Regions from separate parts of the Homo sapiens genome. Here region 2 is linked to region 1. Evidence: fine-mapped expression QTL. A gene starts in region 1. The other region holds a variant in brackets. All regions are shown on one strand. Distances are from middle to middle. Region 1 holds the start of LINC01191 (long intergenic non-protein coding RNA 1191). Region 2 overlaps ACTR3 (actin related protein 3).

Evidence for each region. PIP is the estimated chance that this variant, and not a neighbour inherited with it, causes the effect.
Region 2: its variant is fine-mapped to the expression of LINC01191 in whole blood (INTERVAL, PIP 0.92).

Annotation. Positions count from the first base shown.
Region 1 is chr2:113,971,125-113,986,735 of GRCh38, reverse strand. LINC01191 (long intergenic non-protein coding RNA 1191) reads right to left here and starts at 7,167. Exons shown (of 2, transcript NR_148509.1): 1 at 6,608-7,167. LINC02992 (long intergenic non-protein coding RNA 2992) reads left to right here and starts at 6,752. Exons shown (of 1, transcript NR_034130.1): 1 at 6,752-9,067. RefSeq lists a silencer at 6,870-7,059 and an enhancer at 7,150-7,299.
Region 2 is chr2:113,935,612-113,951,222 of GRCh38, reverse strand. ACTR3 (actin related protein 3) reads right to left here. Exons shown (of 12, transcript NM_005721.5): 7 at 11,121-11,264; 8 at 8,864-9,037. Among named protein-coding and RNA genes, the nearest start is that of LINC01191, 36 kb to the left of the region's middle. The variant T/C (reference allele first, on the strand shown) is at 5,996.

The sequences.
Region 1 (15,611 bases):
ATTAAACGTTAGGTCATATTGACACCATCAAATTTGGGAGAGTATAGATGGTATACAACCCCAGAGTCCTAGAGAACAGTAAATCAGATCTATCAGGGCACTGCATCATATCCTGCTTTTGACATGAAACAACAGTATCGACTGGGTTAAAAATGAGCCAATTTTCAAAAACCTCTACCTGCTACAAACGTTTTCACATATACCACAGCTCTTTAAAAAGAGATAAAGAGAAATTGAGATGAATTCATAAATATATTTAAGCACTAAATCCCTCTTTGGTTTTTTTACTTTTCTTAAGCCTCTCCTGCCTCACAAAAGCCTATTTCAAATATTGACTTCAAGGAGAAGATGGATAAGAACAGCCAATATTCAGGGCTAAGGTAATGGAAGCTGCTCAACCTACTTTAAGAACAGCCAATATTCAGGGCTAAGGTAAAGGATGCTGCTCAACCTACTTTAGAACAGTTTAATTTGGATATTTACCTGAACTTTGCTCATGGCTTTGTACACCTGAGTCTCAATCAGGCACACCAATACGTACTGTGTACTTTGAGCTATATACTGTGTTCTGTGGTGCAGCTCTTTCAGATTAGCAGGAAAGTTTTACAAAATCCTCTTAAAATGACATTGAGAAAGCACAAATTATCAGTGAATAAATATTTATTGTGCGCCTACTATGTGCTAAGAATTCTGCAACGTTGTAGAAGTGTCATGATGAATAAGACAATGAGGAGAAGAGATAGCAGAAAATGTGCCTTTCTTCTTTTAAGTTGCCTAACTAGTGATTCAGGGAATTCTTCCTTCCAGAGTATCTAATAACTGGTTATCCCACAATGGCCCAGAATTAAATTGAATGTCAAAAGGAAACCAGTCTTGCATCTGGGATTGGTTGGTTGGCCAATAACCACCGGTGACAAAAGCTTTGCGTTGACCCCAGTAATTTGTCTCTCCATTGCCCACGGCAGACATCACTAATCAATGGCAGCATTTGGCCATCTATTCCACAGTTATTTATTGAGTGACTCCTACATGTCAGCACTCTCATAAGCACAGCAGACCCTGCAGTGGTTGAGACAAACAAAGTCCCTGCCCTCTTGGAACTTACATTCTCGTGGGGAAATAAGGCAATACACAAGAAAAATAATTTTAGTTAATGAGAGGTGATAGGAGTACAATTAGGTAAGGAAAGGGGATAATGTGTGCCTAAGGGAATCGGGGAGAGACGACACTTTTTAGCTAGGGTGATCAAAGTTATCTCAGTAGAGGTCACATCTGGAGAGAAACCGTGAGATCTATTCCGCTGGCTCCTCCTAAGCAGAGCACTCCAGGCAGCCACTACCAGTCAACTGCTGATCAGACATTTCTGTGCTATGAATGAGCCCTGAGTAAGGCATACTAGGGAATGGAGAAGAATCCAAAGTAAAAAGCATTCAATGTAGCTATGGGATACATGTTTAACAAAATCAAACATTACAAGATTGAAAGAAGACTTGAAATACTTGTATTCTAGTCTTATTTTAACATTTTAGACTCTCAGTTTCCTCATTAATGAAATAAGAAGGTTGGATGAAATAATCTATACAATTCCTTTTAGATCCTATGGTCAATAATTCTAAGAAGTAAAGTGGGGTTTTAGACAATTGGAGAGAGGGTAGATTAAGTAGAGAAGTATTTTTGTGAAAGAGGTCATTTGAACAGTCAGAGGAGAAATGAGATGTACTATGACTTCCTGGAGGCTTCTGGATAACCAGCAGAGCCACAGTCAGCTCCTGATTTTGCAAACAGCTTCAACTACCACAACCCAAAGCAGTTTTCACCTTGAATTCGGCATGTAAGCCAACTGGCGTGGTCTTCTCAGCCGTGTGCACATTCAAAATCTCCAGCATCCCAATCTGTCATCTGCTCATCTCAGAACATAAAGAGCTACACAAGGCAAATCACCACGTTGTGAGACAAAGAAGGGAGGGTTATTAGAGATTCATCGGAAAGAATCCGCCTTTCACTGCTGCCTGCGACAGGAGAGCCACCATTTCAGAAGTGTCACAGGAGAGAATTACAGGTTTCCACAGTCATGATGGGTCTGGATCAAGACTCAGGTATTTATTTTTAAAATTCTTGATTTTGCTCCACAATAGCATTAAAAACAGGACCCACGTGCATAAAAATGTCCCCTTTTTATACAGGTAGTAGTTCAAGTTTGGGTCCTTAGCCATAACCCAGATACTTATATGTTACTATGACACTGTGAGTTTGGATGATAAATGATTCAAATTCATTTTGTGGGTACAAAGTGCTTCATAAATACTTAATCTCCAGAGTGATTTCAACTTAGAATTTCTGACCCTATTTGGACTTCTCTTTATCCAAGTCACACCGGGTCCTTGTTCTATTTGTAAATACGTAACGTTCCGCACCAGCCTCTGCACCACTCCCCCTGCTGCTGATGGATGCTGACTTGGGTCCCGCGCCCAGGCAGCCTGAGAGATGCAAGAGAAGCCAGGAATGGTCTTTTGAGTAGCCTGTGATCCCAGAATAGCTCCACTGATTTACTATATCTCCCGTTTTCCGTGCTGTGGAGCAAAGATGGAACTATCTTTGTGACCTCTGCCAGATCACAGGGATGGATGTTTTCTTGAGAGGATGCTCTCTCCAGAGAAAAGCACATGACAGCAATCCAGCATTTTGGAGGTACTAACTGTTCATCCACCAAATCACAGTCCCCAGCCTTCTGCCACGAATGAAACAGAAGGTGATCAGGGACTTGCTTTCTCTGGGAACATACTAGAAATGGAAGTACAGATATCATCTCTTCTATTTCCCTCGTAAAATAGCACTCCCGAAGACACTCACTCAGCATGGCTTTGGCCTACACTCCAGAGAGCCTTGAGGATCAGGCTGGAGTCTACTGGCCAGAAAAGGCGTGGTTAGTTATAGAGCACAGCAGCAAAACTACTTAATCTCTCTGGTCTTCAGTCTTCTCATTTATAAAATGAATGTTTAGGTCTGTCTCTTGGGCATTAACCTCATGGTAGCCTATCTGGTAAACAAGCCTGGTTTGAAATCCCATCTGGCACTTACTGCTTGTGCTGCCTGGCCTCAATTTACTTGTCTGTATAATGGAAACAATACTCACTTCAAAGAGTAACTGTAAGAAAGAGATTAGTTAAGCACATGGCACAATTGTTAAACTGCACTGAGCTGTCTCACCTTATTTCTGTAGACAGAGTCCTCTTACATTACCATCCAACAGAGTTCTCTTTCCCATGGAAGTGCTTGCTAAACCTGAGCACCTCCAAATCCAATTTGACAACAAAATTGCAGTGCAGCCCAAACCCTGTTTGAATGAAGAGTTTATCTGGATTGTTTCTGTTGAAGATGAATATCCCAGGCTCATCACACCTCCCCACTCATGAAATCTGTGAGAACAACCAGGCGTGCAACACAAAATGGGGAAAGGAAAAGCAGACCCCCGGGAGAGAGTGTTAAGTGCATATATATCTGCTCTATTATCTTAGTGGCTTAGGACAACAACCATTTTAGTTTATCTCATGATTTTGTGGGTCAGTTTCAGGCACATTTTAACTGGGTGATGGTATCAGCTGAGGTCAGTCTGTGGTATTTAGATGTTGAGTGGGCTGGACTGGAGGGTCCAAGACAGTTTCACCCATGGTTTGGGGGTGGGAATGGCTGGAGGGCTGGGCTCAGCTGGATCCATCTACTGGAGCATCCACCCATAACTGTGCCAACATGGCGGTCTCAGGGTGTCAGACTTCTTACACGGTAAGTTGTTTCAAGAGACCAAGGCAGGAACTTCAAGGCTTCTTCTGATCTAACCTTGGAAGTCATGCACCATCACTTCTACCACATTGTAGTGAGCAAGTCATCAAGGCTGGTGCAGACCCAAGGAGGGGGATAAGACTTCACAGTTCAACGGGACAAGTGGCACTGAACTGGCAGCCATCTTTAATCTACCTCAATATCTGAGCCTCAGTTCTGCTCTGTAGAATGGGCTATGGGTAGACCTCTCCCATCTTCACATCCATTCCAGTGTTACCGCCAATGTCTTTAATATCTAATGAGGAAGCCAAAGGCGAGAGGTCACAGGGCAACCAAAAAACTCCAACAAGTAGGACTTAGAGGCTCCCCTGACTTGCCACCATCTCAAAATAAATTGCTTTCTTCTATGTTTGAGTCTAGTCTGTATCTAGAACCACAAAATAATAATAAAATGAGGCTGGGCGCGGTTTGGCTCACTTAGTGAATACAGCCTGCTACAATTCAGTTAGTATATATTATCAATGGTAAATAAAGTTCTGGAAACTACATCGTATGAGGAAAGTGTGGTAAAAAAAAAAAAATGGGGAGGCACCTAATCCTGAGAAGAAAAGATAAGGGAATGCAACATTTACTTATTTTCACATATTTAAGTGGGTATGGAAAGCTATTTTCTGCTCACTAGAAAGCAATGGTTAACCACTAGATAGAAATTACAAGGAAAAAGATTATGCTTAATACAAATTTCTGGTTTTTTTCTTTTGCCTTCACCCCCACCCTCACCTCTAATTTCTTTTAATAAGATGGAGAAATCAGTTTTTCCTAACAGCAGTTATGGAAATACCTCTAACCATGGTAGTGATTTGGGCTGTTTACCAATAACCTAGTGCTCACTTCTTCTGAGCACAGGGTAGGACTTCATTTCCCCACCCCTTCCAGGTTAGGAATGGCCTCCTGGCTAGCCTTGACCAAAGACATGCGATTGGAAGTGTTGTAGATTACTCCATCCAAAAACACTCCAAGAGCCAGTGTGCAAATTACCACATCCCCTTTCTCTCTTCTGGGCTATTGACGAGTGGAGGCACCGTTAGCCTGAGTCCTGAGTGAGGAGACGGAGCAGACCCCTCAGCAAGATTGTCAGCTCAAATACAGGATGGCCAGTTACACCCGAATTTTAGGAAAAAATAATAATTTTTAGTATGCAACATTTGAGACATACCTATACTAAAAAATTCGCCGATTATCTGAAATTCAAATTTGAATGTCTTGTATTTTTCTTTGCTAAATCTGGCAACCCTATCCTTAAGTGATTCACGGTAGTTGTGAAACATCAGGAAGAAATAAACCTTGTTATTTTAACCCACAGAGATTGAGGATTGTTACTGCCAATAACTTAGCCTATCCTGACTTAACTACTTCCCATCTCTGGTGAGGGAATATGTTGATGAGGCCTAAGTGTAGCCCCAATATTTGAAAGGAAGAAGGCAGTTTCTGTACATAATAAAAGAGAAACTTGGGAGCTCTGGGACATAATTTAAGAAGGAAGGATGGGTAGAAAATTGGTGTAACACAGCCTCAGCCATCGGGGAACTTCACGTCTACTTGGAAAATAAAAATTAAAAAAAAAAAAAAAAAAAAAAAAAAACGAAAAAAATAATGGTAGAGAGAAGTCCTGAGAATAAAGAGGCCATGTGGGTTTGGAGCAGGCATGGAAGGACTTCATGGGGAAAGGAGGTTTGCCTGGCCAGGAGATAAGCAAATAAGTAGGACTGGGGATGTAGAAGGGCTGAGAGCAGCCATGCCCCAGGGAAATGAGTAATCATGGTTTGTCTGTGAGGTTATTGTCTAGAATTGCCAGAGTCTACAAGACCAGCTGTCCCCGAGGGTTGGAGATAAAGTGCTAGGTGGTGTGGAAGTTGTAAGAATCAAAATGGAGTTACTAATGTTTTTTCTTTAAAAAAAAAAAAACTCAGGCTGTGCGCAGTGGCCCACGCCTGTAATCCCAGCACTTTGGGAGACTGAGGCAGGCGGATCACCTGAGGTCAGGAGTTCGAGACCAGCCTGGCCAACATGGTGAAACCCCGTCTCTACTAAAAATACAAAAATTAGCTGGGCGTGGTGGCGGGCACCTCCCAGCTACTCAGGAGGCTGAGGCGGGAGAATCGCTTGAACCCAGGAGGTGGAGGTTGCAGTGAGCCGAGATCGTGCCACTGCACTCCAGTCTGGGTGACAGAGCAAGACGCCATCTTGGGAAAAAAAAACAAAAAACAAACCAAAAAAAACTTGACAAATAGAGCTAGGGAAAGCTAAGAAGAAAGCACTCCCACACTTGTATGCCTGATAACAAAAACTAACACAAAAGGCTCTACAAAACCATAACCTTGCACAAAGGCCATCACAGCCTTACACATATATATAAAAAAAAAAAAACAAAAAAAAACCTCCACAAGGACATTCGCCCAGCAACTGCCTGTCTAACCTTGGACTGGCAACCCCTTGTTATTGATCTCTGTAGCCAAGGATAACCATTTGAAAACAATTATGAAATCCTCCTTACTTTCTCTTTGAAAACCTTCCTCTTCCTTTCTTCCTCTGCCTCCTCGAATATGCACAGTTTACTATGACATGCGTGTTACCGTTGCAACGCTCTGCTCCTGAACAAACGCCTTTCTCTAGACAGCCTCTCACTGTGTGGTTATGCAGCTTGACAGGGGCCCGCTGGACCCAAGTTTACTGCCTCTGGCAGGCGGTGGTGATGACGGGGAGTAAAAGCACCTTGTGGGGAGTTGAAGGGAAAGATATTTCAACGCAAAAACCCAGGCACTTTTACTACCTTTTGTTTGATGCATCGGTGTTACGGGAAAGCTCCTTGGCAGCGAGGGCCTGGCTCTTTATCGCCGTGTGTCCCCGCCCCACGTGGGTCCCATGCTTAGCCCACGGCGGGTGTTTGAAAAGCACGGAATGTATATGGCGGGACAGGGCGCGCTGCGGATACACCGGGACGCCCCCTCAGCCGCGACAGTAACGGCCTCCGGCCACCAGGGGGCAGCCAGGGCGCGCTGCGGATACACCGGGACACGCCCCTTCAGCCGCGACAGTAACGGCCTCCGGCCACCAGGGGTCGGCCAGGGCGCGCTGCGGATACACCGGGACGCCCCCTCAGCCGCGACAGTAACGGCCTCCGGCCACCAGGGGGCGGCCAGGGCGCGCTGCGGATACACCGGGACGCCCCCTCAGCCGCGACAGTAACGGCCTCCGGCCACCAGAGGGCGGCCAGGGCGCGCTGCGGATACACCGGGACGCCCCCTCAGCCGCGACAGTAACGGCCTCCGGCCACCAGGGGGCGGCACACGGCGCCTCAAACTGTAAACGGCTCCGGGCTTCGGAATCCGGGCGGGGAGCGGAGAGCGGTTCGCAAAAGCCAGTTGGTGCCCGGATGCCGGCATTGTCACGGGATCGCGGCCAAAGGGGGTAGAAGACAGCGCAACAGTCGCTCTTCTTGCATGAAGCTATATGCATCTAGTGTGACGGATTATCCTACCTGGAGACTGTCTTTTTCAGCTCGGCATCACGGGGGCGGGGGCGGTGACCCCCATCCGGGCTCCCCGGGGGCGGTGACCCCCATCCCGGCTCCCCGGGGGCGGTGACCCCCATCCCGGCTCCCCGGCCTTCTCTCCTCCGCCCGCTCCTGCCTCCCTTCTGCTTACTCCTCTCCTGGTCAACAGGTCAGCTCGGGGTCCTGCTTCCAACCTCCTCCTCCTAGTTGAAGCCGGTTCTCAGGAGAGAACCTGCCATCCGCAGCTTTACACCTCGGCAGGAATGTAAATCACTCTTCTCCCGTCCCAGGAAGCCTTTCCAGTGTTCTGATTCCAGAAAGCAGGTGTGTGTGGCCGGTTCAAGGAATTTCAAGCATCAGCAGGCAGAGGAAAGTACCAGAGTGGAAGGCAGCCCACAGGGTGTCGAAATCAAGCCACCCAGGGAGCCCGCAGATCCCACCCTCTCCGGTGAGAGAGTTTGGTGGGGAGCACTTCATCCAATGCAGGGAACAGCGTTACTGCGGCCTTCACCTCCCGGCTTCAAGTGATTCACCTGCCGCAGCCTCCCAAGTAGTTGGGATTACAGGCGCGTGCCACCACGCCGGGCTAGTTTTTGTATTTTTAGTGGAGATGGAGTTTCACTATTTTTCTCTCCCCATCCCGGGAAAGTTGTATCTGTTTACCACATGTTCTCCCACATCTACTCGGTTTTACCTCTGTAAGGCCTGAACTCAAAAGCCAAGAAAAAACCTCTTTCTCCAGAACTTTACCTTTTCTGGCAAAAGGAAGCAGGGAGACCTACTAGGAAAATGCCAAGAACAAAATGATTAATCATGTGAAGACGGCATCTACCACCTCAAATCGCCCAGCTCATTGAACCTGCGTGAGGATCCAGCACTGTCCCTGGTGTGTACAGCTCAGTGCACCGAGATGACCAACCGCCTGGGTTTGCTTTACTGTCACTGCTAAAGGCAGGAAGGCAGCTGCCAAACCAGGACAAGGTGGTCACCCCACGGTGAACATCAGTCACCCTCCCTAGCCCACACAGGCAAACAACCGGGGGAGACTATGGCTCAGGGCTTAGAACCCAAAGGCCTGAACAAATGAGGAAGTTTCTACAACAAAGACTTTCTTTGACAGAGTAACCAGTCATAATTTCTGAGCATTCCAGGAGCGCTGTGCAGAATCACAGGTATTTGGCAACTAGTGGGATAAAACAAAGGTGCCATTGAGGATGTTTACAACCAACCCCTCTCCGGAGATAACCTCAAGGTCTTTCCCTTGCACATGGCCTTTCCATGACTCATCCACAGCAGCTGCCTCCCTCCACCACACAAAGGACCCTGCAAGTTCTGTTTGGTATTCTTGAGAATAAAAACTCCGTGGGTCGTTCCCTGGAATTGGTTCTCACCCATTTTCTTTCCTCTGACCGTAGCCAGGATAGGCATCTAATTCTATAGCTTGTCCGTGGAATGGAAAAACAATTTGGATTTTCACAACCTGAAACCTAATTTCTGGTAGGAAGGTACCATCTGGTGGATATTTGTGAAACTGCTCACGTCCTGTGTTTGAAAATGAGCATCTGGGGGCAGCGTGCCTCTCCGAATGTCAATAGGAACGTTGCTCCGAGAGGAGGAGAGATCCACACTCAATGTGGCTGATCCCCTTAACTATGTGACACTGTGTATGTGACTATGTCATAAGCAGCGTCATCCCTGTTTACAGTTTTCTCAGTTTACAATGAATTTAAATAGCTACCCATTGCCTCTTCCTCTCCAAGCGTACTCCTTGCTCCTCCGTGACAGGCACATTGATCTATGAGAGTTGTCTCTTGGGAAATCTAGTCATATCTCATGCGAACATTTTCTAATTGGTGCACCCACCCCTCTGTGGGCATGTTCGCACAGTGTCATGGGCCCTTTGTGGAGGGTTGTCCCCTTTGTTCACCACAGCCCCTCTCTCTGAGACTCTGCACCCCCTATAGGAGGTCGGGGGTGTCTGCCATGTTTGTGGGACTAGCCCCCAAACAGCAGGGTGAGCAGGGTTGACCACTTGCTCAAGCTGGGCAGTCAGATTCTCACTCTCTTGAGATCTGGAACCAGTATTCAGAAACCACGAACAAGTGCAGCTGGATCTGCGGTGGGGTGGACCCCAGCGCTTAGGGGCATGCTGCTGCTGCCATGTGCACAAAGCAGCAGCCCTGCCTGGCCTGCAGAGTGAGTACCAGCCCAGAGCAGAGACAGCTGGAGAGGCCCTTCTGCCTATGCCCTGAGGCAGTCCACATCCCTGGGCTGCATTCTGGCCCTTGAACTTCATGGGTTATTCTGTTATAACAATGAATTCCCCTTGATTACTGAAGCAGGCTCTGGTGGTTACTTACATTTAGACACACACACACACAGAAACACACACACCCCTGCTGATGAAGGTCTATCAGCAGATCCTGAAGCCTGACCCAGGGGGTCTCACAGAAATTAAAAAAAAAAAAAAAAACATGCTTCTAATCAAAAAAATGTTAAGGGATTCCATGTTCCGTATACACCTGCTGTCAACGGGGAGATAAACCAACCTGCCCCAAGCCTGTTTGAAGGTTTCAGCAAGGGAGGCCACTAAGCCTCTGCCTCAGCTGAAGAGCAGAGGCTGTCTCCACAGGAAAGATCATCCCCCATGATGTAAACGGTTTGTGGAGGAAGTGCATGGTGCAGGAGGAAGGAGGCACTCCCTAACCAAAAGGAAGTTGGAGTTTTGGTGGGGAGAGATGAGGCAGCCAGAGAGAATCTCCATGATGCTGCCTGGGCTCCCCAGAAGCCGACTCTGAGCAGAGTTCAGTGGGCAGGAGATTTATTAAGGAGTGTTCTCCGATCCATACCTGTGGAAGGAAGGGAGATGAGGCAGGAGTGGGTAGAGGGAGGAGTTGAGCTGTGAGAGGGCACAGCAGGAGTCTTGGCCCACCCTACAGGGAGCTTTGGAGTTTTAATGGCCTGTCAGGCTTGCCCATGTTGGGCTAAAATGGCCTGGCTTTGTCCTTCTGTGTCAGTCAGTCACTGGATGTGGGTTGCCCCACGAAGGCTGCGACCTTGGATGAGGAGGGTCTCTATAGCATAGAGCTAGCTGTCTGCTGTCTGCTAATGGGGTCCCATCAGTGTCTGCTGCATGCTGATGGGGCCGTCTTCTGATGGGGTCCTAGCAGTGGGGTGGCAAGTCCTTCCCTGTGGGAGTTCCTGATCTGTGAACACCAGCTGGGTTCCTCATGAGATTTCTACTACCTTGTTAAGGTCTCGTGCTGTCTAGGAGATGGCATTGTTCTTGTTCTCTTCCTTCAATGAGAAATTGACAGAAATAGATGGTTTAAATTAAACTATACCCAAAAGGCCAGGGACTAGGTGAGGAATATTGTGAAGTCATCATCAATTTTGTTCCATTTCTACTTTTGCTCCTTTGCCCTTCCCTTTACATACTATTCCTCCCCTCTTTTTTATTTTCTCCCCTCTCTCCATTCCTTCCTTCAGTTGTTTTTCTTTTCCCACAGGATAAGCAACAGGACAGGCTAATTCACACTGTAGAATAAATGACTGCTAACTAATCATTCCAGTCCAGTGCCATCTTCCATTCCTGCTGCAGTCCAGATGTGCATCACAACTGGATTTAGATCATGTCCTACCTGGTCTCCCTTCTCCATTTCTTCTCTAGTCCACCTTGACCACTGAAGCCATATGAAGCATCACTAAATGCCACCTGCATCAGGTCACTCCCTTGTTTAGGAGAGTACAGTGTCTCCCCAACCCCTTCCAGGCCCGGTTCAAGGACAAGCAGCACTGGCCCAGGAATTAGAGGCTCAAGGGGCCATGTAGCTCAGAGGTTAGGAGCATAGGCCCTGGAGCCCAACTGCTGTGCGAGTCTCATGATTTCCAACAATTACCAGCTCCATGACTTTGGGCAAGGTACTTACCCTCTTCTGTCTCAGTTTCTTCATCTGTCAAGCGAAAATAACCTACTGTGAGGATGTGATTAATCTAGTGAGTACAATAGGTGCTTGATCATCTTAGCCGCTGGTGATATTATTTGTGCTATTAATCACTGAGTATCAAGTACCTAAGTGACCCTGACCTTGGACAAGTCACTTCACCTTGCTGGGGAGGGATCTCAGTTTCCTCATGCTTAAATTGAGGGGATTGCCTAGGTCATCCCTAGGGTCCCGGCCAGCCGCAGCATTCAGTTTCTCTCATTCTTACCATGTCATTCAAGGCTCACCCATCCACACACATTTCCACACTACAGCTATAATTTTGGGCTCACTCTCATATAAACCTTTGTTCCTACTCCTATTCAGCCTAGCATTGTCCCTGCTCCCTTCAGTGTGTTGTCAATCTTACTAGATTATAGGACAGAAATAGGTCTCTTTTATCTTTGTGTGCACACACAGGGTCCGGAATAGCTTCTTCTACATAGGTTTTCACGGAATGCTTTTGGCCACTTTCCAGCTATTCATCTTGCCTGACTCTACCCCTCTGGAACCACTCCTCTAGCAGAAGCCCTGGAAACACTCTGGCTTTTTCAACTGCCAGTTTAATTTGCCACCATCTGTCACAGCGTATGAGTTCCTGGAGGCCTAGAGCACATCCTCTCCCAGAGGCTTAGCGCAGTGCCCCATCCAACCCCAGACAGAGGTAATTTATACACACAAAAAGGCCAGGGTCATTGTGGGAGAGGGAAAGGAAGGCTGAAGTTGGAAGGAGACAAACCCTTGCAGCCTTCAGTTTCTGAATTGTTCCCACTCAGTTTGCAATGACAGAATTCTAGGAATTCATTTCTAAATGTTTAGAAAAAGTAGTGTCTTTGTGTACAGTAATCTTCCAGAAAGAAGAGATCATCCTAGCTATATTGTTTATTCTTTTGTATATTAACACCTGTGGCACCCACTGTAAGTTGTTTGGGGTTAGACCATGATAAGAGAAGAAACTGACAAAAATTCTCAAGATCCACAGGAATGGGAAAGGGAGGTGGGAAGTGACACTTTTTTCTAGAGGTATCAGTGATAAAATCTGTAATACAGAATACAGAAGCCACCACAATGTGAGCAAGTGGGGCAGCTTTGGACACGTGCCTTCTCCCTAGAAGGTCAACAAATACATTCCTGTATGTTTAATAGATGTATATTTGGGCCTGTCACACTGGGCATACTGAGAACACTCACTAGAATTTCCAAGAACTGTAACATTCCTTTACAGAGTAGCCAAATTTCTAGCAAGCAGAGCCCTCCAGGACATAGCCAGGCCTGTGGAGGTCAGGTAGAAAACACCACAGCATCACTGCTCCCCTGTGTGTGCCACCAACGGATGTGCATTCAAGCAGCACAGAACAACTCAAGCCTGAGCAAACCGTGTGCTTCCAAGCATCATGTTAATTGTGAAGCCAATTCAACATGCTGGGAGTCCCTTTTGTGCTGCAGATATAATTCTGAAAATGAGTGCAGACAAGTGCTTCTGAATCCAAGGTCTGGTATTTCCCACTTTCGCCTTGCCAACCTACCCAGCCAATGCTAATGTCTGTTGTTAATGCCGTGTAGTTTGGCCTCTGATTAATCTGATCAGAGGACATGTGCCCAGTGTCTCTTATTAACACTTCATAGTACGGTTCCTAACCTAGGACTTGCTGCCATTTGCTACGAACACGATAGAGTGATTACCGATTGACTTTTGGGGGATCATCTCTACTGTCTTGCCTGGAGCTGTTGGAAAAGGCCTCCTTTATAGGTGCTGCTTCAAAATCCTGCCTCCTGGTCCTTAAAGGGCACATTTTATAAATCGCATGTATTCAGAGTAAATACAGCAAAAAAATCTCTTGAGGGGTTGTGGTCATGCTGGAAAACAACCAGAGCTGGGACTGCTCCCTCCTCATCCTGGAATGTATCACCCATCCTCTCCTCCACTGCTTTCCAAGAAGAGGACTGACCCCTCACTCTTTTCCAGAATTAATCCACTTTTCTCTCACTTTCCATCCCACCATCTGTTGCCTCTTCTGGGAGCTTGAGTCAAAACCCGCCCCTTCTCACTTCTGCCTCCTTAGCCTCAGCGCACAGGTATGCTCGAGGCTTCCAGGAGAACTAACCCAAGCAACCCGCTTCCAACCTATCCTCCAGCCCTCACGCAACCATTGAGCTTTTTTCCTTCTTTAAGTGCATATTTCTTGAAAAAAAAAAAAATAACAAGAGCTGTTTCCAATGATTGGAGCTGTCTCATTATTCTCCCTTACTCCAGGTCTCCTTGCAATCCTCTTCAATTCCCATTTCCCTTCTTAAGTTGATCCCTCAAAGGCCACCAGTGATCTTCCAACTGGGAAATGTAATGACCTTTTATTCAGTCTTTATCTTTGTCATCTCTCTGTAGGCTTTGGCATTTCTGCCAGCTATTTCTTTCATGTCCTTTGCTCTCCTCGTTCCCAGGACACCCTGCTCCCACTCATAATACTGTGGCCACCCCCTCCTTCCTTTTTTGGCTCTTCTTCCTCCTTGGGTCCCCTGCATGCCATTCCCCGAAGCCCTGTTCTTGGCTTATTTCCCTCCTTTACCTTTCTTTTCTCAAGGTTTCAGCATTCACCTCTTCATGTATTACTCTTTATCTTCACTTTCAGTTCTGCTAGCGATCTGTTTCTAGATAATGGATATTATCTCCAATATACCCCTCAAAATCAACAGGTACCAAACTGCACTTACCATTTTCCCTCCTAAATAGGCTCCTCTTATTCTAGATATTGTACCAACATCCATCCTCACCTCTACACCAGTCACCTCAGTCACCTCCCAGGCTAAACAACTCAGCATTGGCCTTCCTCCACTGCCTTTCCCCAGGTCTAATTATGTCCTAAATCCCATCAATGCCACCACTGCACTAGCCTTCTCATAGCCCCCTCTCCTCCCTGTTCCCATGCTCCACCCTAATCCAGGCCTTCATAGTCTCTTCTCTGAATAATTATGTGGCAGACCAATTGCCTGAGATACTAACTTGTGTTTTTTGTGCTGCCTTTTCCCTCCTCTATTCCATGAAAAAATAAGCACCCTGTGCATCCTTGGCTTCAGGTGAAGGCTTCCTGGCTTTTATTGAAGAAAGCACAGTTAGTGCTTTTGAGGACAACAGGAGGAGAGGGAAAGACTAAAAGATAAAAGAGTGGAATACTACTCAGCAACAGAAAAGAAATACTAAACAACAAAATGGTATGAACTATTGATTTCTATAATACAGGCAAGTCTCACATATACAATGTTGGGTAAAAGGAGCAGGACGCTATAGAGTGTATCCTGCGTGATTCTATTTATATGGATTTCTAGAACAGGCAAATTAGACTATGGGGATAACATTTAGAAGAGTGACTGCTTCCAGGTAGGGAGGGGATGGACTGGAAGGAAGCACAGGAGAATTTCTAGAGTGACAAGAATATGCTATATCTTGATTGGGGTGTGCTTATGTGAGTATTCAATTCATCAGAGCACATCAAACTATAAATAAGGTCTATAAATTTCACCGAATGCAGTTTGCAAAGAGGTCAGAGACTGAGAGGGTGAAGAGAGCAACCTCCTAAGCCATACTGATGGCAGACCCGAAGAGGCAGCACTACTTCAGAAGGGATGGCTGTGTGGTGTCTCTAGAAAGCCTGGTCCCTAGAGACCAAGCTCCTATGCCCTAAGCCACAGGAGGCCTCCCAGCTTCAAAGACGTCCACGGCAACCATGATGGGATGGAAATTAGGAATCCTTCCCAGGACTCCCAGACTCCTAGTCATCTTTCCGTATTTGAGAACATGCTTGGGAAAGCAGGAGTACCAAATCATGATATTCAGACTGAATTTCCTACAAGCCCAGCAGAATGGAACTTGAAACACAACCTGAAGAAAATAAGGAAATGGGCATTTCCTGCAAAACAGACTCAGGTGACTGAGAGCCATACCCCGTACAAAAGTAAAACCTCAAATTTTTCTCTCAATTCTTCTCATCCACTTCCGACAAATTAATTTCCTAATTATAGCTTGGGTGATGTCTTTCTCTGGATAACACTTTCAATGATTCCATATTCCTTAGGGAACATAAAAATCTATATCCTTTAACCTAACATTCAAGGGCCTCTTCTCTCTCTCTACCTTTCCAACCTCATTAGCCACCACTCCCCAGTAGGGGAGAGAGAGAGAGGGACACTATATTAAAAAGATTATTAACACCAGATAGAAGGAAATAAATTTTAAATGCTTTAAATATTAGAAAGCCACACTCTGCAAGACCATAACTGGTTCCACACACCATTTGGCCAATGTT
Region 2 (15,611 bases), 36 kb after region 1:
AATGGAAACTTTCATATAACGCTGTGAGAGTATACACTGATGTAACCACTATGGAGAATAATTTGGCAATAGTAACATAGTGACATGGTCTGGCTCTGTGTCCCCACCCAAATCTCATCTTGAATTGTACTCCCATAATTTCCACGTGTTGTGGGAGGGACCTGGTGAGAGAGAATTGAATCATGAGGGTGGTTTCCCCCATACTGTTCTCATGGAGTGAATAAGTTGCACAAGGTCTGATGGTTTTATCAGGGATTTCTGCTTTTGCGTCTTCCTCATTCTCTCTTTGCCTGCTGCCATCATGTAAGACAGGACTTGCTCCTCCTTGCCTTCTGCCATGATTGTGAGGCTTCCCCAGCCACGTGGAACCATAAGTCCAATTAAACCTCTTTCTTTTATAAATTGCCCAGTCTCAGGTATGTCTTTATTAGCAGTATGAAAACGGACTAATACAAATAGCTAATAAAATTTTAAATGCACATACCAGTAACTCCACTTCTTACAACAAACTCTGAAGAAACTCCCCAAACATGTATGCTATTACATATGCATATTTACTATAGCCTTGTTTCTAAGAGGAAAAACCCGTTAAGTCCATCAATAGGGGATGAAATAAATAAATGTAGTCTAATCTCATTATTCATGATTCCATATTTGTGAATTTACCTAATCGCTAAAACATATTTGTTACTCCCCAAATCAAAATATGGTTATTCATGGACATGCACGTGTAGAGCAACAAAAATTTGAGTCCACTGATGTGCACATTCCCCATTGAGGTTGAACAAGATGATACTCTGCTATCTAGTTTCAGCTCTCATACTATAAACAAGTGTCCTTTTCACAGTTCTATTTAGTGGCACGGTTTTCATATTTTTGTTAGTGATTTCATTATTTAAAATGGCCCCCAAGCATACTGCTCAAGTGCTGGCTAGTAAACACAAGGAGGCTGTGATGTGTCTTACAGAGAAAAAGCAAGTTAGATAGCTTTGTTCAGACATGTGTTCTAGTGCTATTGAATATAAATGAATATACTAAAATGATATACTAAATGCAGTGCCTTTAAAAAGAAACACACATGAAACAAGGGTATATGTTAATGGGATAACAAAAATGTTACCAGAGGCTCAAAGAAACCTAATACTGTATTTCCCCTAGGAGCAATAGCTAGCTCAGTGTTCACTAATTCAGCGCTCTCAAGAACTTTTTGGCACATCTACTTTGAATAACAAACATCAGCTATATATTCAAACGATGATATACCATAGTCAAAATAAACTTACTATTTCCAAACAGCTGGCACTCAAGAAAAACATACTTTTTAAAAAACTAACTTAAACAAAAACAAAAAACAACTTGAAGCTGGGCATGGTGACTCACACCTATAATCCCAGTGCTTTGGGAGGCCAAGGCAGGACCATTGCTTGAGACCCAGAGTTTGACACCAGCCTGGGCAACATAGCGAGACCCTGTCTCTACAAAAAATTTAAAAACTAGCTAGGCATGGTGGCACACACCTGTAGTTCCAGCTACTTGAGAGGGCTGAGGAAAAAGGATTGCTTGACCCTAGGAATTCGAGGTTACACTGAGTTATGATCACACCACTGCACTCCAGCCTGGGTGACAGAGAGAGACTCTGTCTCTAAATAAATAATCAAAATCTAGCTCTAATTAGTGAAAAACAAACAAGTATTGTATATCTCCTCAGCCATTCATTTTTATCATTAGGTTGTCCTAGTTGAGAGACATTATTCCTTTATTTATTAAACTGAGTCTATAACTGTATTGATAATTATTAGGCATGTGTCAATTTTTTCTTTTTTTTTTTCTTTTTTTTTTTTTTTTGAGACCGAGTCTCGATCTGACACCCAGGCTGGAGTGCAGTGGCGCAATCTTGGCTCACTGCAACCTCTGCCTCCTGGGTTCAAGCAATTCTCCTACCTCAGCCTCCCGAGTAGCTGGGATTACAAGCGTCCGCCACCACGCCCGGCTAATTTTTGTGTTTTTAGTAGAGACGGGGTTTCACCATGTTGGCCAGGCTGATCTCGAACTCCTGACCTCAGGTGATCCGCCTGCCTCAGCCTCCCAAAGTGCTGGGATTATAGGTGTGAGCCACCACGCCCTGCCTTTTTCCAGTTTTTAAGATTAGTTCTAAATTATTTACAGGCTGCGCATACAATGAAAAGAGATTTAATGTTATCAAAGTGACACATACTAATACAAAATCTTTTCATTTAGATCATGTAAATGGAGTGAAAAAGACATAGGATATACGAAAAAGAGATCCAACACAAGAGAGAGGGAAAGGGAATCCCTAGAATGATAGTAAAGGAATATGGCAACTCTATACTGGGAACCGACAGAAGCAAGTTCAGATTGGGATGTAAAAGACACTTCAGAAAATTAAACTGATGAATAAACCCTATACATCTGAATATCCTGAGAAGAGATTTATATAACTACTGAAGAGAGTTTGGAGGTGAATGAATGGTAATTATTTTAGCACTAAGCAAACAGTTTATTAATGACTTCTTGGAAAACAAAGTTACTTATAGGAAGGGAAAAGATTTCATGGTTAACTACATGGCTCAGATATGAACAAAATTTGTGGTCACAAAAACATAAGCACTGAATTTCAACCTACTTGAAATTATAATGTAACAAATGAGATGAAAAGGGAATAGAAAGGTCCTGTCTGTGATGACAGAAGAAGGATAAAAAAGACAATCTTCCTCTTCCATAGTTGGAATTCGACAGACAACGCCTAACACAGGGCTGGGCACAGTGGCTCATTCCTATAATCCCAGCGCTTTGGGAGGGCAAGATGGGTGAATTGCTCGAGCCCAGGAGTTCAAGACCAGCCTGGGCAACATGGCAAAACCCTGTTTCTACGAAAAATACAAAAATTAGCTGGAAGTGGTGGCACATACCTGTAGTCCCAGCTACTTGGGAGTCTGAGGTGAGAGGATCACCTGAGCCTGGGGAGACTGCAGCGAGCCATGACTCAGCCACTGCACTGGGTGACAGAGCAAGACCCTGTTTCCAAAAGAAAACAAGAAAAGCCTAACACTGAAAAAAAATTTGAAGTTGCAATATAACCAAGCAATTCATAGCTAAGGAGGTAATCAGCAAAAGAAGCAACTAAGAAGAGTTTGAAGTGGTTACCTCTAGAAATACAAAACAAGAGAAAGAAACATGCAGGGCACCCCTAGTTTTTGTTAGGATACGCAGACCAAGACTTTTAAACCATGTGCATATATATAACTGATTTTTAAAAACAGCCTTTAAAAAAAAGAAAACAAAACAGGTTTTTTAAAAAGAGAAACAGGTTTCTCATAGAAGAAATTACTTATAAGGAACATAAAGCTATAGACAACAGAAAATGTTTTAAAGTTAAAAAATAAAGAAAAATTGGTGTATGAAACAATAAAGGTTATTCAAATTAATAGAAAAAATGATATATGAAACATTAGCAGCAAGACACATTTTCATCCAGCCAACTATACCTTTCCTAAGCAATATGAAACACATTTTATTTACATATCTAAAGCTTTGGGTTATTTATTTATGAGACAGGGTCTTGCTCTGTTGCTCACACTGGAGTACAATGGTGCAATGCCAGCTCGTTGCAGCCTGGACCTCCTGGGCTCAAGCAATACTCTCACCTCAGCCTCCCAAGTAGCTGGAACTACAGGCACACGCCACATGCCTGGCTAATTTTTTGTATTTTTTTGGTAGAGACGGGCTCTTCCCATGTTGCCCAAGCTGGTCTTAAACTCCTGGGCTTGAGTGATTCGCCCACCTTGGCTTCCCAAAGTGCTGGGATTACAGGTGTGAGCCACCACAACCAGCCTACTTCAAGGTTTTTAAGAAAGCCAAGGCATCAGCTAAGCTCATTTGTCAAGCATATTCCATTCAAATGCTCATCTCCTATATCCCATGCTATTATCCATCGTGTGGTCATGATCCTATTCATGCAGGACATTTGCTCAGGATCTTCTGCAATTTTCTAATTCCTGTCCCCAACTTGGAGCTTTAATATTCTTCTCTAAGATTTCAATTTCAAGTTAATTGATGTGCCTTAAATGAAATGAGGTCTGACACACTTCTATTAATCTACTCACATATAAATGGCCCATACAAAAATCTGTCCTAACTTCCAGCTACATGTGGTTATCTCTCCCGTCTCTTGACTCTCCGCTAAAATGACAGCAAGAGAATTAAAAGGAAAGGTAAATGACCAAGGATGAATCAGGGGGCAAAAAAACAATGAATACAATATTTCAATCCTGTTTGGAAAAGAAACTGTTAAAATCCTCTATATAGAATGAGACCCACCCTCCTCGGTTCCCTTCCAGACCGTGTATAACAAGAAAGTTAATTCAAACCCCAATAAATAAATGAATGAATAAATGACTGTACAAACAAAATGAAGCAAATTATACCATTCTGGACACGGGTATGGGCAAAGATTCCATGATGAAGATGGCAAAAGCAAAAAATGACAAATGGGATCTAATTAAAGAGCTTCTGCACAGCAAAAGAAACTATCAGCAGAGTAAACAGACAACCTACAGAATGGGAGAAAATCTTTGCAAATTACACATCTGACAAAGGTCTAATATCCAGCATCTATAAGGAACTTAAATAAATATACAAGGAAAAAACAACTCCATTAAAAAGTGGGCAAAGGACATGAACAATTTTCAAAAGAAGACATATATGTGGCCAAAAATCTTAAGAAAAAAAGCTCAACGTCACTGATCATTAGAGAAATGTAAATCAAACCCACAATGAGATACCATCTCATACCAGTCAGAATGGCTATTATTAAAAACTCAAAAAATATTCTCACACCATCCCTCCTAAAAAATGAAGGAAAGAGAAAATATTTTTAAAAAATAAATACAATTTAAAAAGAAAAAAAAAGGTGCTGGCAAAGCTGGAAAGAAAAAGAAACGCTTATACTCTCTTGGTGTATATTAGGTGTAAATTAGTTCAACCATTGTGGAAAACAGTGTGGCAATTCCTCAAGAACCTAAAACATAAATATTCAACCCAGCAATCCCACATACCCAAAGGAGTATAAATTGTTCTATCATAAAGGCACATGCATATGTATGTTCACTGCAGCACTTCACAAAAATAAAGACATGGAATCAACCTAAATGCCCATCAATGGTAGACTGGATAAAGAAAATGTGGTACATATACACCATGGAATACTATGCAGCTATAAAAAAGAATGAGGTCATGTTCTTTGCAGGAACATGCATGGAGCTGGGGGCCATTATCCTCAGCAAACCAGTGCAAGAACAGAAAACCAATTACTGCATGTTCTCACTTTTAAGTGGAAGCTAAATGATAAGTAAACATGTACATACGGAGGGAAACAACAGACACTGGGGCCTATCGGAGGGTGGAGAGTGGGAAGAGGGAGAGGATCAGGAAACATAGCTAACGGATACTAGACTTAATAATACCTGGGGACAAAACAATCTGTACAACCTCCATGACAAAAGTTTACCTATATAAAAACCTGTACATGTACCCCTGAACTTAAAGTTAAAAAAAAAGAAAATGAAGCAAATGAATAAACAAGGTGAAAGTGTAGGAAAAGCTGAATTTTAAGGGAAAAGAATCACATTACACTACTTGCCTCAAAAGTGAACAACAGTCTCAGGTATAATACTATAAATATTACAATACTATTGATTTACCTAATAACAATAACCTAACATGTTGGCAGGCTGGAAGAAAAGAGAGTCTAGAAAGAACTAATCTGAAAGGAGGCTAGCATTTAAACCACTAACAGTGACATATCAAGAAACAGCTCCATCCATGTTCCTGCAATACCATCACAGTATTTAGAAATCTGGGGGTTACTACCAAGAGCAATAACTAAAAGCTAGTGGATGCTCTATAGAACACAATGGCAGCAGGAGGGTGAAGAGCTGCTAATTTTAAGTCTGTCAGTGTTATTTGACCTTTAAAA[T/C]TGTGTGTATACATCCTCTTAATCTTTATGTTTTGATAAAGTGCAAAGAAAATGTACCACCAAAAACCTTCACACTCCAGTATACTAGTCTGACCACAATTCCTTATCCTTCTCATGCTCACTCCTCTGCTACCAATTCACAATTATTATGTGTCATTTCATCATGATCTCCAATACCTGTACCCTCACTATCCCTAGGTAATTCAGCTTTCAGGACTTGCTCTCTCCTCTATGCTGTAATACTTTAATCTCTGCTTTATCAAAACCTTTTCCTCCTTTCCCACAACTGTCTGGGGGAGGCGAGAGGACACTATTGCACAACTAAAAGTTTTGGGTATCTAACCTGCTACCTTGAGTAAAGAATGGATGCCCCATACTATTAATATGTACTCACTAGTCACCCTCTCAATTCCCCTCAACAGTAAATATGAAAGTCATTATTCTTCACAAGCCCTCAATTTTTTTTGAAATGAAGTCTCGCTCTGTCGCCCAGGCTGGAGTGCAGTGGCGTGATCTCGGCTCACTGCAAGCTCCACCTCCTGGGTTCACGCCATTCTCCTGCCTCAGCCTCGCGAGTAGCTGGGACTACAGGCGCCCACCACCACGCCCAGCTAATTTTTTTTTTTTTTTTTTTTTTTTTTTTAGTAGAGACGGGGTTTCACCATATTAGCCAGGATGGTCTCGATCTCCTGACCTCGTGATCTGCCCGCTTCGGCCTCAATTTTAGTCCAGTCCCTTCTCCCAAAACATAAGCTTGATTCCACCTCATAAAAAAATTAAAACTATGAACTATGATGATGAACTTCTTCAACTACCTACCTGTGCTTCTGCCCTTCCTAGTTCATTTTCCTGTACCTATACTTAATTCCTTCCCTCCTGTAACTGGAGTAAGCCCTCTTAAAAATTTAAAACTATCTTGAGCCTTATTCTTGCAACTGAATTCTTACTCGTCCACTGTCTTTTTCTTTCATAGCCATCTCTCAGAATGTCCAGACTGCTGATTTCCAAACCTTCACCTCTCACTGAGATAAGTAACAAGCTGCTCTAACGTATCACTCCATTGAAACGCCTCCCCTATGATCATCAATAACCTAGATGCTGAAAAACTCCAAGTACTTCTAAGGTTTCCTCTAATGTTACTTCACTGCAGCAACTGGCACTATTTACCCTCCCTTCTTGAAACATTCACTTCTCTCAATTTTATGACCATAATCCTTTAGCTTGGCTTCTACCTCTCTGTCATCTTCAGTATTCTTTGCAGGCTCTACTTACTCAGCCTGTCCACGTGTCTGTGTTCACGAAGGCCCTATTCTTCACCTTTCTACTCCACAGCCCCTTCTCAGCCAACCTCTTCCTTTGTGCCCCACAAAGGGTGATGACTTTACAACACCCAAGTGTTTGTTTTTGAACCTTTTAAAAGATGCATATAATAAACTCATCTTTGTCTATTTCACCTACTCCTCCCCTTCAGTATTACAAATTTCAGTGGATGGCACACTGGGTTGCCCAAGTTACAAACCTGTGAATTATCACAGATTCCTCATATTCTTACTCCCCTCATATCTAAGCAATTACTGATTATGTTGATTCTATTTTTCTCTCACCTCCTTCCTCATTCTCACTGACCCACAAATACTATTCATCTTTCATCTAAAATACTATAGTAAAATCACCTATTTCCAACACAATTCACACCTCTGTTCCAACCCGTCCAAACCAATGCTGCGAGAGTAACCTTTCTAATATGGTACACAATTATCTTCTATGCTTAAAATTTTTGCATGACTACAGAATCTAGCTAACTCCCTTGCATAACATATCTGCCCTTCAAGACTGGGTCCATGAATACCTATCTGGATCCCTCTCCTACCAATCTGTCCTCTATACTTTTCTTTCCAGCACTCTCATGTCTAAGACCTCTGCCTAGCTAACCTTCTGACAAAAATACATATACTCCCCTACCACACATGACTGACAAACACCCATTCATCCTTTAAGTCTCAGTTCAACCATTATCTCCCCTGAGATGTTCTCCCAAGCAGACTTACATGCTCTTTGTTCCTGTGCCCTCAGCAGATACATACACTCATTAAAGCAACTATAACCTTACGTGTTTAAATACTCATCTCTTTTATTCTTTGAGCTCAGTAAGAGCAAGATAAAATAATTTTTCATCTTTGAATACCCAGTGCTTAAGCTGAGATCATGAAAATTCAAACCATTTAACATTTGCTGAGTGAATAAACAAAATTTTAAAAATAACTATTCTTAACATTAAATAAGCAGAGTAAGTACGTAATATTAGTAATTCTATTAATAAAGTTACAATTCTGATACTAAGTTACCAGAAGAATTTTCCATTATTAAAAGTATGTATTTCTTAATTTAATAAAGCCTTTATGTTGCTAAAACTTCATAGACAGAAGACTATTTTGCTACTAGTTATATATTTTAATGGTTAATTGAAGGTTCTTTGTATAATGGTCATTTTACACAAATAGGGAGGGGGGGAGCTTTCTAGAACCTTTCCCAAAATATTTTATTTCAATTACAAAACTTTACCTGAGTCCATGATGGAGGGAAGAAAAAAAAAATTTAAGGGCTCTCCTCTTTTCATGACCCCCCCATAAGCCACACATATTTTTTAAAAAGTTTTTTCTAAATCTGCAAAAAATAGCAACAATTTTGCTTATTTTAACAAAAGCAAATTTTTTCTTTAAAAAGTTCATAAAATGTTTTATAAACTTTTCATAAAAACTCAAACTTTTAGTGTACTAATAAAAGTTTCTGAGATTAATTCTCTCTGAATATCTATTAATTCATATTTGCTGCTGAATACTTTTAAACAATTCCGTTAAAAAAAATTACCTCTGGATGAAAAAAGATTTCAGGTCCCAAAAATCTCTCATAACCAACATCGATAGAAAACTCTTTCTTTGAGATAGCATTGATTCCAGTATACTGTTTAATCCATTTTGACCCATCTGTATCATACTTGTTAAATTCTTTTACTAAATCTGGGCAGACATAACTATAGCGCTCCTGAAAAACAAAGAAACAAAAGTAACTTTTTTTGCTTATTATAGGAACAGTAAAGAAGAATGGCATGTTTTCAGTAAACTATAATCCAATAAAAAAAAAAAACTCTTCAGAAAATAAAATTAGGAAATTAAGCTGGAAGAAAAATTTGTTAGGATATTATCATATGTGTAGTACAAATAAACATACTCATCTCCTACACATATTTTCTGACTTTAAATATAAACAGTATTTGAGAGACTGGAGAGCTGACTTCTACTATTTCAATGTTATTTCCTGAAAATGTTCACTAATGTCATTCAACATTTTCTGTCTCAGTAATAATGAATCTTGTGCTGTAGGTAAGGAGAATAAATAAAATACAGAACTGAAGAATAAGTAATAATTGTGATAACCACACAAATTAATATAGATCCTTAATATCTATCTGAAACAAAACTGATTACGGTCTGAGTAAATAAAAGAGCAAAGAAAAAAGGCTAAAAATATAAATTACTCTATTTTGTTGCATATTTGGTTATATGACCTAAGTAAAAGTTTTCATCAAAAACACTGAAAAATATATTATAGATTATAACATCATATTTGTAATTTATAAACTCCCAACTGCCAACCAATATTTGTTTTATTTTTTTAAAAAAACTTCCTTTTCCAGTATTTTTACACATCACAGGCACCATCCAAGATAGATGCAAATATTACCAGTAATAATCAAAATACACAAAGAGAAAAAATACTGGAATCCGAAGACATTTGATTACACTATTTGAGGTCTTCTCCAAACCTTGGAAGTGAGAATGACAAAGAAATGATATTCCTTTAAAGACATTCAGAATGACCATCAATCTTCTCTGGAATAGATTTAAATCTCTGGTGTTTTCTCGTTTTGCTTTAATTTCACAGATTTCCCAAAGATGTTGAATCAGTAGTATTCACATTAACTTTTTATATATTTAATTCTTATGCCACCAACTTGGGGTAACTTTTGGTAGTCATTTACTAATTTACTACCTAGGAAGTAGTTGATAAATTTTCATTCTTAAGCTCTGACGAGCAAGGAAAATCCCATAAACAAGCAAAGAGGCCCAGGCATGGTGACTCACATCCAGCACTTTGAGATTCCGAAGCAGGAGGATTGCTTAAGGCCAGGAGTTCAAGACCAGCCTGGGCAACATAGCAAGACCTCCATCTCTACAAAAACTTAGCCAGACATGGTGATATGCATCTGCAGTCCTAGCTACTCAGGAGGCTGACGCGGGAGGATCACGTGAGCCCAGGAGTTTGAGGCTGCAGTGAGCCACGAGTGTGCCACTGCGCTCCAGCTTGGGTAGCAGAACAAGATCCCATCTCTACAAAAAAAAAAAAAAATCAATAAAAATAAGAAATTAAAAATTTTAAAAATTTACAGGTAATTAAAAAAAAAAAAACCATGGAAACAGAGACAAGTAAGTTACTTTTGCCATGGCAGTTCTGCTTTTCAAAACACGTGAAACCCACTGAAATTTTTTGGTTATGTGGCAAATAATAAGTTTGAAAGACGATGCTAAAGTATTTTGATAGTTTGCATGAAGCACTGATATAATACTTACATGGCAGAAAAAAATTAATAAAATACTTTAGATAGCCTTCATGTTTTTCTTCTATGTGCCCTATCACTTGAGCCAAGCACTGCTTCTATACTATAGCACAATGAATCAATTGTATCAAAATAATTTTTATGACAAAAGCTTTTAGAATTAAAATAAAGAATTCAGTGAAGAAACTGAGATGCAAGGACTTTATAGTGAAATAATTATTTATTTTTAATAAAGAGAATAATCACAAAAATTTATGTTAATGTCATTTGGTAAAATGTTCTTATATTACTCCTCTCAAATATAAAATATGAAGAAAACAGAAGACAAACTGCTGTAATAATTTTCTTTTAAGAAACACAAAGAAAATGTAAATATATTTAAGGGTAATAATTTATAACTGGTTAACAAGATTATTTCAAGTACTCTTCTTCTATTAAAAATTTCTCACGTTAATGTTATAAATGTGATTTTAATTTTTAACTAAATTACACTCCTATCACACTTTTTACCTTTACTGCCTTAGCAGTTTCCAAGGATTGTTCTGGAGGGATTCCTACTTCTCGGTCTCTCAGCAGTTGCTGAATAAAATATGTTATATCTCGTCCTGCGATTGGAATGTGTTTAATACAGCTGCCAATCACATACCCTTCAGCCTAGAGAGGGGAAAAAAGATACCAAATTTACTTTCAATGTTTTGAAAATTAATATAACCCAAAAATATGAACCAATAAAGACCAATTTATTAAGTTAGTGTATTTATAGTCTCAAGTACTGCTTTATCTCAGAACTTACCTTTATTCCTCAGAAACTATAACTAAGAATGGCCAGCAACTTAGATTTATTTTCCCACTGACAGTTTATAACTATGACTAAAATAACTCAACAATATAGAAATAATAAATTTCAAAATATAAATATCAAATGGTTTAGATAGCAGACTTTATATCAGATGGTACTATTTTTAAATCATTTATAATTTCAGTAAAAAATTTAGATTGCTTCATAAGAAATGTGACAAAGTGCTTATCATTTTCCTAATCAAGTATGTATCCATTTCACAAACCTGAAGCTTTCCACACACCATCATAATGCCAAATAACTAAATTCTGTAGAACTGATTCACAAATTTACTGATGTGTCAGAAGTATAACAAATAGTGTGGCAAAATTAAATTTCATTAGGAAAGAATATTAAGGATGCCTTCATCTGGCATGACAGAATATTAGGGATTGAACTTACCCTCTCAATTTAAAGAGAAAACAGGACAATTTATAAGAAATAAAGGTTTTCGGCCGGGCGCGGTGGCTCACGCCTGTAATCCCAGCACTTTGGGAGGCCGAGACGGGCGGATCACGAGGTCAGGAGATCGAGACCATCCTGGCTAACACGGTGAAACCCCGTCTCTACTAAAAATACAAAAATTAGCCGGGCATGGTGGCGCGCGCCTGTAGTCCCAGCTACACGGGAGGCTGAGGCAGGAGAATGGCGTGAACCCGGGAGGCGGAGCTTGCAGTGAGTCGAGATCGCACCACTGCACTCCAGCCTGGGCGACAGAGCGAAACTCCGTCTCAAAAAAAAAAAAGAAAGAAAGAAAGGTTTTCAGACATTTGACAATCGGCAGAGTAGGGCAGAGATACTTTCTAAGAAAAGGGAAACAAATAACGTGAATGTTACACTCTATCCTACTGCCTAGGGAGAGTTACTAGGCCACAACAATAGGAAAGAGAACTCAAACTGGTCTCATTAAGTTAGGGATATAGAATTTAAAGGTCAGAAAGGCCAAAGTGGCTGAAGTTTGTAGGCCAAATTATTGGAGGGGGAGGAGTTGAACCAACAGGGAGCTGGGAAGATGTGAAGAGAGTACCTCCTTAACTGAATACTGATCAGCACACTCCTGTGAGGAAACCATCAAGGTGAGAGAAAGGACCTCTAGAAAAAAGTAGACAGAACCACCACCAGAGCTCACACATAGCCAGAAATAGTTCCTGATCCCACTAGCCAAAGTTGAAAGATGTTTTCAAACACAAGACATGAAGTAGAGTCCTCAGAAGAATATTGCCTCAAGAATGGGGACAAACCAGCCCTGGACAAAAACCTGTTACGGACCTGCTTAATAACATTTAAAAGGAGCCCCTGAGAGGATCAAACTAGTTCCTGGTATCTTAACTATGTCCCAGGAAAAAATCCTAAATACTTATAAAGAACTCCAAAAATACAATACACAACAATGTATAGAGTGCCAAATCAAAAATTATAAGCATGCAAGGAAGCGGAAAAACACAACACTTAACGAGGAGAAAAACCAAACAATACAGAGGAATGACAAGGACAATAAAACAGCAACTATATACTCCATATAATGAAGAAGGTCAACAATGAGGATGAGGAAGAGAGAAATGGAAGATATAAAAAGACCCAAATGGAACTTCTGAAGAAAAAAATACAGTATCTAAAATTTAAAAATCTACCAGATGAAAAGAAAAACACTAGATGAGATTACAGTGGACTACACAGTGAAGAAAAAATAGTGAATTTGAAGACAGAGCAATAAAAACTATCCAAAAAAAAGAAAAAGATTATAAAAAAATAAATGTACAGAGCATCATGATCTTTGAGACACTGTGAAGCAGCCTAATATACATGTGATTAGAGTACCTAAAGGAGAGAAAAGAGGAAGAGAAAAAATATGTAATCAGTAACAGACAAAAACTTTCCAAATATGATGAAAATTACAAACTATATATACAAGAAGCTCAATGAACCCCAAGGAGAAGAGACATAAAGAAAACTTTACTTAGGTACATCACAATCAAATTGCTAAAAACCAATGAATCAGGAATAAAAAGAAAATCTTGAAGACAGCCACCCAAATAAACATTACATTCAAAGAAACACACACAAGAATAACAGCTGACTTATTTTCAGAAACAAGGTAAGCCAGAAGACAGTGGAGTGACATCTACAGGGGAAAACTGTCAACCTTCTATACCAAGCAAAAATCATCTTTCAAAACTAAAGGAGAATAAAGACTTTTTCAAAGGATGTACAAAAGTTGAAAGAATTCAAAGCCAGCAGATCAGCACTATAAGAAATGTTGAAGGATGTCATTTTGACAGAAGGAAAATGATACTAGGTGGAAATCTGGACCTTCACAAAGGAATAGAGAGCACTAGATATGGTACGTGAATAAAAGAACTCAATTTCAAGGCTGGGCACAGTGGCTCATGCCTGTAATCCCAGGACTTTGGGAGGCCAAGGCAGGTGGATCACTTGAGGGCAGGAGTTCAAGACCAGCCTGAGCAACATGGTGAAACCCCGTCTCTACTAAAAATACAAAAAAATTAGCTGGGTGTGGTGGTGCACATCTGTAATCCCAGCTACTCGGGAGGCTGAGACACAAGAATCGCTTAAACCCAGGAGGCAGAGGTTGAAGCGAGCTGAGATCGCACCACTGCACTCCAGCCTCGGCGACAGAGCAAGACTCTGTCTCCAAAAAAGTTATCTTTTAAAGATAACTTTTTGCTACTGGGTAAATTGTGTTTTTCCTCCCCACCAAATTCCCATGCTGAAGTCCTAAGCTCTATCTCAGAACGTGACTGTTTTTTGGAGATAGGGTATTCAAAGTGGTATCTAGTTAAAATGAATTCATTAGGGTTGCTTTCTCTAATCCAATATAAGTGGTGTCCTTAAGAAGAGGAGATTAAGACACAGACATGTATGGGGAGGACTATGTGAAGACATATAAAGAAGATGGACATCTAGAAGCCAAGAAGAAAGTCTTCAGAAGAAACCAACCCTGCCAAAATCCTGATACCTATCCTTTCCCACTCCTCACATTGTAGTTATATCACAATTTTTGGTTCTAACCTCCAGACCTGTGAGGAAATACATTATTCTTTAGGTACCCAGTCTGTAGTACTTTATTACGGTAGTTCTAGCAAACTAATACACCACTCAAAATGAAACAAGTTAACAATGTATTATTGAGTTCACAACATATAAAAGTAAAATGAATGACAATATAAGAACAAAGACTAGAAGGTCAAAGCTGTTGTATAATTATTATTTATGAAGTAGTAGAATGTTATTTGTAATTAGACAGTGGTAAGTTAAAGATGTTTACTACAACCCATACAACAACCACCACCAAAAACAAACAAATGACAACAGATATAGCATAGCTAATAAGTCAATAAAGAGAAAACAGAATAATAAAAAATACTCTACTAATTCTAAAGAAGGCGGGAAAAGTAAACAATAAAAAGGAATAGCACCCCCCCACCAACCTTTTTTTTTTTTTTTTTTTTTTGGAGACAGGGTCTCACTCTGTTGCTCAAGCTAGAGAAGCTAGAGTGCAGTGGTGAGATCATGGCTCACTGCAGCCTCAACCTCTCCAGGGTCAGGTTATCTTCCCTCCTCAGCCTCTGGAGTAGCTGGGACTACAGTCATGAACCACCACGTTCAATTAATTTTTGCATTTTTTGTAGAGACAGGGTTTCAGCATGTTGCCCTGTTGGTCTTGAACTCCTAGGCTCAAGCAGTCTGCCCACCTTGGCCTCCCAAAGTGCTGGGATTACAGGCATGAGCCACCATACCAGCCAGAATACCCACTCTTAATGTCCTTACTAAAACTCATTCTTTTACATATTGATAACTTCTATTCTGCAAATTACCTATTCTAATTATCAACATGCTGATAGTACTGCTCAGATGTGCAGCTGTTAAGAAAAGACTGAAGAAAGGCAGAACCAGGTCAAATCCTAGCCTCACTACCTATTATTTGGTGACCTTAGGCAAGTCAATTATTTGCATTTTATTAATGAGTAAACTGAGGTACTCAAAGAAAAATATAATATTTATCACAGACTGATTTTCAGATTTAAACAATAATTTTAAGATGAAAAATTATTTTATGTACCACTAAGAAAGAAAAATAAACTGCCAAGTAAACTAAAAAAAGCTATCAAATGCTGGACACGTCCTAATTTCCAAGCTTACTA